Homo sapiens: one gene and its partner. Each later gene encodes a partner of the first gene's protein in a complex. Each region holds a gene or a part of one and is shown on either strand. Other genes may lie near its edges.

Region 1 (3,748 bases):
CGGATACAAAATGCTAATATGATACTCCACTATTCTGTACTAAAGTGACGTGCTGCAAAGTTAATTTTGAAAAGGGAAGTTAAAATGTTCACAGCAGAGATCAGCATTTTGTGTACTTTAGAAAACTGAGTTACAAGAATTTAAAAATACAACACAAAGCTAATAGCTAAATTAACTACCTGTTTCCCCAACCCCCAGGGGAAAACAAAAGGGAATTAGCTAATATAAAGTTTAGTGTTACTAAGTGGACTACAACATTCTATTTTCAGTGTATGTGAGACATTATTTAAACACTAAGCACAATGTCTGGAATACAATCTCAGTCGACAGTTATTATCACTACTACTACTTGCAGCCACAAAATACTATCAAGTAATTTTTGCAACAAAGATACAAAATTTACCGCTCTTCCATTTTATGTTGTTCATTTTAAAAATAAACGGCAAAATGCCAAGTGTGTTAAGCTTAGAGAAGGCTTTGAGTCAGCATATAAATCATATTCAACCGACACTTGATTTCCAATCCAAAAGCTCCTTATGTAGTATGACTCACCAAATTCCCGATTTCTTCCAACTATGAAAAATAAGTTACACTCCTCCCTTATAGCTACCACCATGACCTTCGTAAAAATTAGGTTAAGAGAATAATTTAAAAATTCTTAAAGACACCCCTTACCTTGATTTCTGGAGAAGATCGCTTGGTGAGTTTAATACAAACCACCAAGGGGTACTAAAGCTGTGTGACCTTTAGGTATGTTCTGGGATACGGCCTAACAAGACTGCCTTTGGGGGATCCTCTGGGCAGCTCTGGACCTAACTAGGCCTGGGTACCAGCGGCAAGACTCTTACTCAGCCCACCGGAGAGGCCCAGGCTCCATTCCCAAGCCGCAGAATCCAAGCCAGCTCACCCTCAAAACCGTCCCTGACGATGACCCACAGGGTCTCCGCTCCCCCTGCCACCTCGTCTGGCGCCAAGGCCGGCTGACTCAAAAGCCCAGGAGTCGAGTGAACGGCGCCATTTTAGGCGGCGGCGGCAACCAATCCCTGCGCGGGAGGCAGGGGGCGCCGGGTCGTTAGGAAGCCGCCGCCGGCCAGGATGGGCGCCGGTCTCGGAGACTCGGGGGGCCCGGACCGGCGGCCTCCGCCATGTTGCACCCTCCTCACGGCCGCCTTTTCCTCGGCGGGCTCGGCCCCGCGGCGGCTGTCCGCAGCCGTACTACAGCTCACCTTCTCGCAGAGGCTCTTGACCTGGGACTCGGACAGCTGCTTGCACTCGTTCAGCTGCTCGATCCACTGGTCCAGCTCCTTGGTGAACACCTTCTCGTCCATGATGCCACCCGCCCCAGCCGGCTGCCGCTCCGCGCTGCTCCCGCGCCGCCGCCCGCACACGGGCCTACACGCACACGCCGCCGCCGGTTCCTCGTGTACTTCTGGCGGCTGTTGAGGCTGGCGCTGGCCCGCTGGCTCTCACCGCAGTACTCGGCCGTCGGCCGCTGCGCCTCCTCCTCCGCTCGCTGAGGCTCCAGAGCTCGGCTCTCTGTAATGGCGGCCGCCGGGCGTGGTGACGTCACGCCCGGCGTCAGGAGGCGGCGGGGAGCGGAGGGGAAAAGGGCCGGGGAGCAAGCTGCGCAACTGCAGAGCCCTCCCCGGGCGGCCGCACGACCGGAGTTGGGGCGCAAACTGGGGGTCAAAGCGCAGGCGCGACGTAGCCGGCTGGTAACTGAAGCGCCTTGACTTTTTGGGCGTGGCTCCCGGAGGGCGGGGTGGTGGGGGAAGGGAAGGATGGAGCTGGAGCATGCGCAGTGCGCACAGCGGCGAACCGGACTAATCCCTGAGCACTATTCCAGGAGAGGCGAGGGCTTGGGCCGCGCGCAGGCGCAGACCGGATGGAAGCCGGGGCCACTGGCAGCCTGTAACTGGTTCCCCTGGGAAGGCCGCTCTGGTGATGAACTCAGCTCCTCACCTGGGGCCTGGCAGTCCGATCACGGAAACGAGAATTGCGACCCCGTGGCTCATCTGGGGTGCTGCGGCTCTGTAATCGTGTGGGTTTCCGTCATCTTTGGGGGCAGGAACGGGCAGCGAGTGGCCGCTTGGATTAACCACCCCCACCTCTGGGCGCGGCTGGCACCTTGTAATTAGGTCACTCGTAGGTGGAGGAGCGTGTACCTACCGGGGGAGTGCTGCGCAGTGCACCTGACTTCCGCGGCACACACCCGTCCCCGGACCTAGGTGTCTCGTCGGGCGCGATGGCGGGGGCGAGGCTTGGGCTTTTCTTTGGGCCTCGGACCGCGGCTCGCTTCCACGCGCCCCGCTCCTCGCCGGTGGTTGCTTTCCTCCAAGTTTAATTCTCTCTGGGAATGAGAGACCCTCAACCCCTGCGCGCCCTGGCCTACTTTCAAGAGGGGAAGCCCAGAGAAGATGGATGCACCTGTCCTGACCGCGTCTCGGTGGCGTGAGAAGCAGCTGTGATACGTGCTTAAAAGAGAGAGCTCGTATACCCTAGGATTGGACCTCTGTCTGGTTATGAATCGCTTTGGAGTTTGCGAAACGTTTTCACATTCCATTGTCCCTGCTTTTACATAAATATCTGGTTCCATAGAGCGCCAGCTATATGCCAGATCCGGAGGGGTCATCCAGACGGACCAGGGACCATGCCCTGGAGCTTGTATTCTCCCAACAGTACTGGCTGAAGATGGTTTGGGATAGGCAGAAGAGAGATCATAATGCCCCCAGGATTTGAAAGATATAGAAGCTTTCCAAAGAACATTTAACCATAAAGGGCAAGGCAAGAGCTGAACCTGATCGCCTGTCTTCCAGGAACCCCACCCTCAGTATCAGGCAACCCTTCCACACCCAAGTGCTCAGCGATGCTTGGGAGGAGACTGCTCACTCTGCGGCTCTGAGGGCATCATCCCCACCAACAGGCTGAAGAAGGCACTGGAGGCCCCATCAGCCAATAGCAGGACTGAAAATCCTCCTTTATCCAAGACAACGTGTTTGGCAAGGCCGACTGGCTTGGCCTCCCTAGGCTGGAAATTGCAATTCTGCTTTCCCTTCACACCTCCCATTAGTGTGCACAAAAGAAAGTACCTTAAATCTACTCTTCTAGAAGTCTTATCACATACTTAATTTACCAGACTGGGAAAAAGACCCTTTAGCCCAAATTCTGTCCCTGTTTTGCAGTTAACATCCCCAAACAATAGAAGGGTAAGAGTTAAGACCAAGTGGAATGAATAAGGAAAAAATCATCACTTAGTGCCCGTGATTATAAAGCCATACCCAGTGTGCTGTCTAATCTTATTCTTTACCGTTGCCATGAACCTGTGTGAGAACTGTCTGATGGGGCAAGAAGCAGACAGGCACTCAGAAAAGAGAAGGGACTTGCCTAAGATAGTGGTCAGGATTTAAAACTGCACACTCCCAAGTACAAAGTCTCAGCCACAGTCATGCAGTTGACCTTCCAAGGTCTGACATATGGAACAGAATCAACATTATTTCTCTTTGCCTAGATTCTCTCTCTTTTTTTTTTTTTTTTTTTTTTTTTTTTGAGCCAGAGTCTCACTCTGTTGCACAGGCTGGAGTGCAGTGGTGCAATCTCGGTTCACTGCAAACTCTGCCTCCCAGGTTCAAGCAAATCTCCTGCCTCAGCCTCCCAAGTAGCTGGGATTACAGGCACCCGCCACCATGCCCGGGTAATTTTTATATTTTTAGTAGAGACGGATTTCGCCACGTTGGCCAGGCTGGTCTCA
Region 2 (3,748 bases), on another chromosome or scaffold:
CAGTTATATGTCATTTAATGATGGGGATACGTTCTAAGAAATGTGTCATTAGGCAACTTCATCATTTAAATGTCACAGGGTGTACTTAAACCTAGATGGTATGGCCTACTACACACCTAGGCTGTATGGTGTAGCCTTTTGCTCCTAGGCTACAAACCTGTACAGGATGTTCTTGTACTGAATACCGTAGGCACTGTAGGCAGTTGTAACAATAGTATTTGTGTATCTAAACACGAAAGGTACAGTAAAAATATAGCATTATAATCTTATGGGATCACCATTTTTCTTTCTCTTGGAATCACATTTCTCTCTCTCTCTCTCTCTCTCAACATTTCTCTCTCTTTTTGATGAGGCCTCACTCTGTTGCCTAGGCTGGAGTGTAGTGACATGATCAGAGGTCATTGTAACCTTGAACTCCTAGGCTTATTGTAACCTTGAACTCCTAGGCTTAAATGATCCTCCTGCCTCAGCCTCCCAAGTAGCTGGGACTACGGGTGTATGCCACCACATCTGGCTAATTTTAATTTTTTACTTTTTGTAGAAACGAGGTCTTGCTCTGTTGCCCAGGCTGGTCTTAAAGTCCTGGCTTCAACCAATCCTCCTACCTTGGCCTCCCAAAGTGCTGGGATTACAGACATGAGCAACCATGCCCAGTTCCATTTTTATTTTTTAAGAGACAGTCCAGACTTGCATTGTCGGCCAGGCTGGGGTGCACTGGTGTGATCACAGTTCACTGCAACCCCCTAGGCTCAAGAGATCCCCCTACCCCAGCCTCCCAAGTAGCTGGGATTACAGTCCTGAGCCACCACGCCTGTCTGGGACTGACATTTTATATGTAGCCTGTTATTTTTATTTATTTATTTATTTTTGAGACAGAGTCTCGCTCTGTCACCCAGGCTGGAGTGCAGTGGCACGATCTCGGCTCACTGCAACCTCTGCCTCCCGGGTTCATGCTATTCTCCTGCCTCAGCCTCCTGAGTAGCTGGGACTACAGGCGCCCGCCACCAGGCTCAGCTAATTTTTTGTATTTTTAGTAGAGACGGGGTTTCACTGTGTTAGCCAGGATGGTCTCGATCTCCTGACCTCGTGATCTACCCGCCTCGGCCTCTCAAAGTGCTAGGATTACAGGCTTGAGCCACAGCGCCCGGCCCGTAGCCTGTTATTAAACGAAATGTCATTATGCAGCACATGACTGTAAATAAGTGAGGTGGTTCAATATTGTGCAGAGATATTTTTCCTGTACTTAATTTATAAGTAAATTTAATATAATTTCAATCAAATGCCAATTGAATTATTTTTTGGAACTAGAAACATTTATTCTAAAATCCATAAATATAAGCAAATAAGAATTGTTTTTTTGGTGGGGGGAGTTAATGGAACAGAACCTGTATTATGGATATCAGCAACTAAAACAAGATTATATTGGCAAAGAAATGGAGAGAAAAGATATATATGAGTATCTAGATATACTCATGTATATATGGATTTTAATATATGACAAAGGTGGCCTTTCAGTTCCATGGGAAACAGTGGTGGTACTGGGACAGGTAGCTCACTATTTAGAAAGGAAAAATGTAGCAGGCTCCTTTGGTTGGCAGACTTCTATGATGATCTCATGAGCTTGTTAACTGTCCTCACACCCTTGTGTAATCCCCTCTCCTTAAGTGTGAGCTGTCCTAGTGACTTGCTTCTAACGAACAGACTGTGGCAAAAGTGAAAGAATGTCACTTCATGAGTAAGATACAAAAGATTGTGACTTCTGTCTTACTAGTAGACTCGCTGTCTTGGCTTTGATGAAGTAAGGTGCCATGCTGGAGAAGCCTGGGTGACAAGGATCTGAGGGTGGGCTCTGGCCAACAGCCAGCCAGGAACTGAGGCTCTCAGTCCAACATAACTTGACAAACTGAATTCTGCCAACATACATGTGAACTTAGAAGCAGATCCTTCCCCATCTGACACTTTATATGAGACTCAACTTCTGGCCAACACTCCAACTGCAGCTTTGTAAGAGACCCTGAGCAGAGGGCCCACCTAAGCCATGACCAGATTCTGGATTCACAGCAACTAAGGCAACAAATGCTTGTCATTTTTCCTCCCAATGGAATGGTATTTTCCCAAAATCTTGCAGATCAGTTACAGCAAACAGAACTATGACCATCAAGGAAAACTGTCACTCTTGGCTTCTTTTTGACCACAGCAGCTACATGGAAGCAGCTGCAGCTTTGATAAAGGCCATAAATGCTTGCTATTTTAAGCCAATAAATTTTGTGATCATTTGATATGCGTAATTGAAAATGAATGCAGGCCAGGCATGGTGGCTCAGGCCTTTAATCCCAGCACTTTGGGAGGCCAAGGCAGGCTTGGGCCCAAGAGATCAATACCAGCCTGGGCATCATGGTGAAACCCCATCTCATCTTTACCAAAAATACAAAAAAATTAGCTGGGCATGGTGGTGCATGCCTGTAGTCCCAGCTACTTGGGAGGCTAAGGCAGGAGGATCACCTGAGCCTGGGAGGTCAGGGCTGCCGTCAGCCACAATCGTACTACTGCACTCCATCCTGGGTGATGTGGTGAGATCCTGTCTGAAAAAAAAAAAAACCCAAAACACAAACAAACAAACCCAAATGTAGTTCCTTACCCTCATCATACACAAATTTCAATGTCGGGCAGTATTGAATAACGAACACTGGGTTGACTAGTGGCCCCCAAAAAGATGTCAATGTGGGCCAGGTGCAGTGGCTTACAACTGTAATCCTAGCACTTTGGAAGGCCAAGGAAGGCACACTGCCTGATCTTAGGAGTTTGAGACCAGCCTGGGCAACATGATGAAACTCCATCTCTACTAAAAATACAAAAAAAAACCTAGCCGGGCGTGGTATCGGGCGCCTGTTATCTCAGCTACTCAGGAGGCTAAGGAACAAGAATTGCGTGAACCCAGGAGGTGGAGGTTGCAGTGAGCCGAGATGGTGCCACTGACTGCACTCCAGCCTGGGCAACAGAGTGAGTCTCTGTCTCAAAAAAATAAATAAAATATAAAATAAAATAAAAATAAAATAATAAAATAAAATATAAAATAAAATAAAAAAGAAAAATAAAAAAATTATTTTGGGGCTCAAGTTAGATTTTCTTGGAATAAGAACGGTGTTTTGTTTTGTTTTGCTTGTTTTATAAAAATGCAGCTTTGAGTGGAAGGAAAGGTTTACACTGCCAAAAAAATAAAAGTTTTGAAAGTCATGCCGACTCTTCATTTTTTTCCTCTTTACATGGAAACTTAGCTGTAATGAATATTTAGTTAATTCTTCCACTCTGCACTTTTTTCTTTTTAGACGGAGTCTCACTCTGTTGCCCAGGCTGGAGTGCAGTGCTGTGATCTCGGCTCACTGCAACCTCTGCCCTCCTGGGTTCAAGCCATTCTCCTGCCTCAAGCAATTCTGCCTCAGTCTCCCAAGTAGCTGGGATTACAGGTGCCCGCCATCACGCCCGGCTAATTTTTGTATTTTTAGTAGGGATGGGGTTTCATCATGTTGGCCAGGCTGGTCTTGAACTCCTGATCTCAGGTGATCTGCCTGCCTCAGCCTCCCAAAGTGCTGGGATTACAGGCTTGAGTAATAAACTAACAAAAGCTCTGAGCTACTTATAATTTGTAGAAAGCTTTGATAGGAATGCCTGCTTTCCAGAAAATTAGTATTAAGGCTTAAACCCAAGTAATATGGCCGTAATTTTGGTGCTGGAATGGCCTATGTTAGAA

The links. Proteins that work in one complex are often made in the same cells at the same time.
Region 2: the proteins of PPP2CA (region 1) and PPP2R5A are in contact, whole or in part, in a cryo-EM structure (PDB 6NTS), measured with the Homo sapiens proteins. Residues at the interface, in NP_002706.1 of Homo sapiens: Arg121, Gln122, Gln125, Tyr130, Asp131, Leu134, Ala140, Trp143, Arg268; in NP_006234.1 of Homo sapiens: Glu146, Glu147, Glu149, Thr281, Lys283, Lys316, Phe317, Trp318, Pro319, Lys320, Thr321, Ser323, Gln324, Lys325, Ser362, Ser363, His364, Phe365, Trp407.

Annotation. Positions count from the first base shown.
Region 1 is NC_000005.10:134,224,534-134,228,281, forward strand, and holds the start of PPP2CA (serine/threonine-protein phosphatase 2A catalytic subunit alpha isoform), read right to left. Parts: upstream 1,541-3,748; 5' UTR 1,329-1,540; coding exon 1,227-1,328; exon of another isoform or gene 1,224-1,226; intron 1,022-1,223; exon of another isoform or gene 676-1,021; intron 1-675. UniProt on the Homo sapiens protein: Catalytic subunit of protein phosphatase 2A (PP2A), a serine/threonine phosphatase involved in the regulation of a wide variety of enzymes, signal transduction pathways, and cellular events.
Region 2 is NC_000001.11:212,351,305-212,355,052, reverse strand, and holds part of PPP2R5A (serine/threonine-protein phosphatase 2A 56 kDa regulatory subunit alpha isoform), read right to left. Parts: intron 2,236-3,748; exon of another isoform or gene 2,103-2,235; intron 1-2,102. UniProt on the Homo sapiens protein: The B regulatory subunit might modulate substrate selectivity and catalytic activity, and might also direct the localization of the catalytic enzyme to a particular subcellular compartment.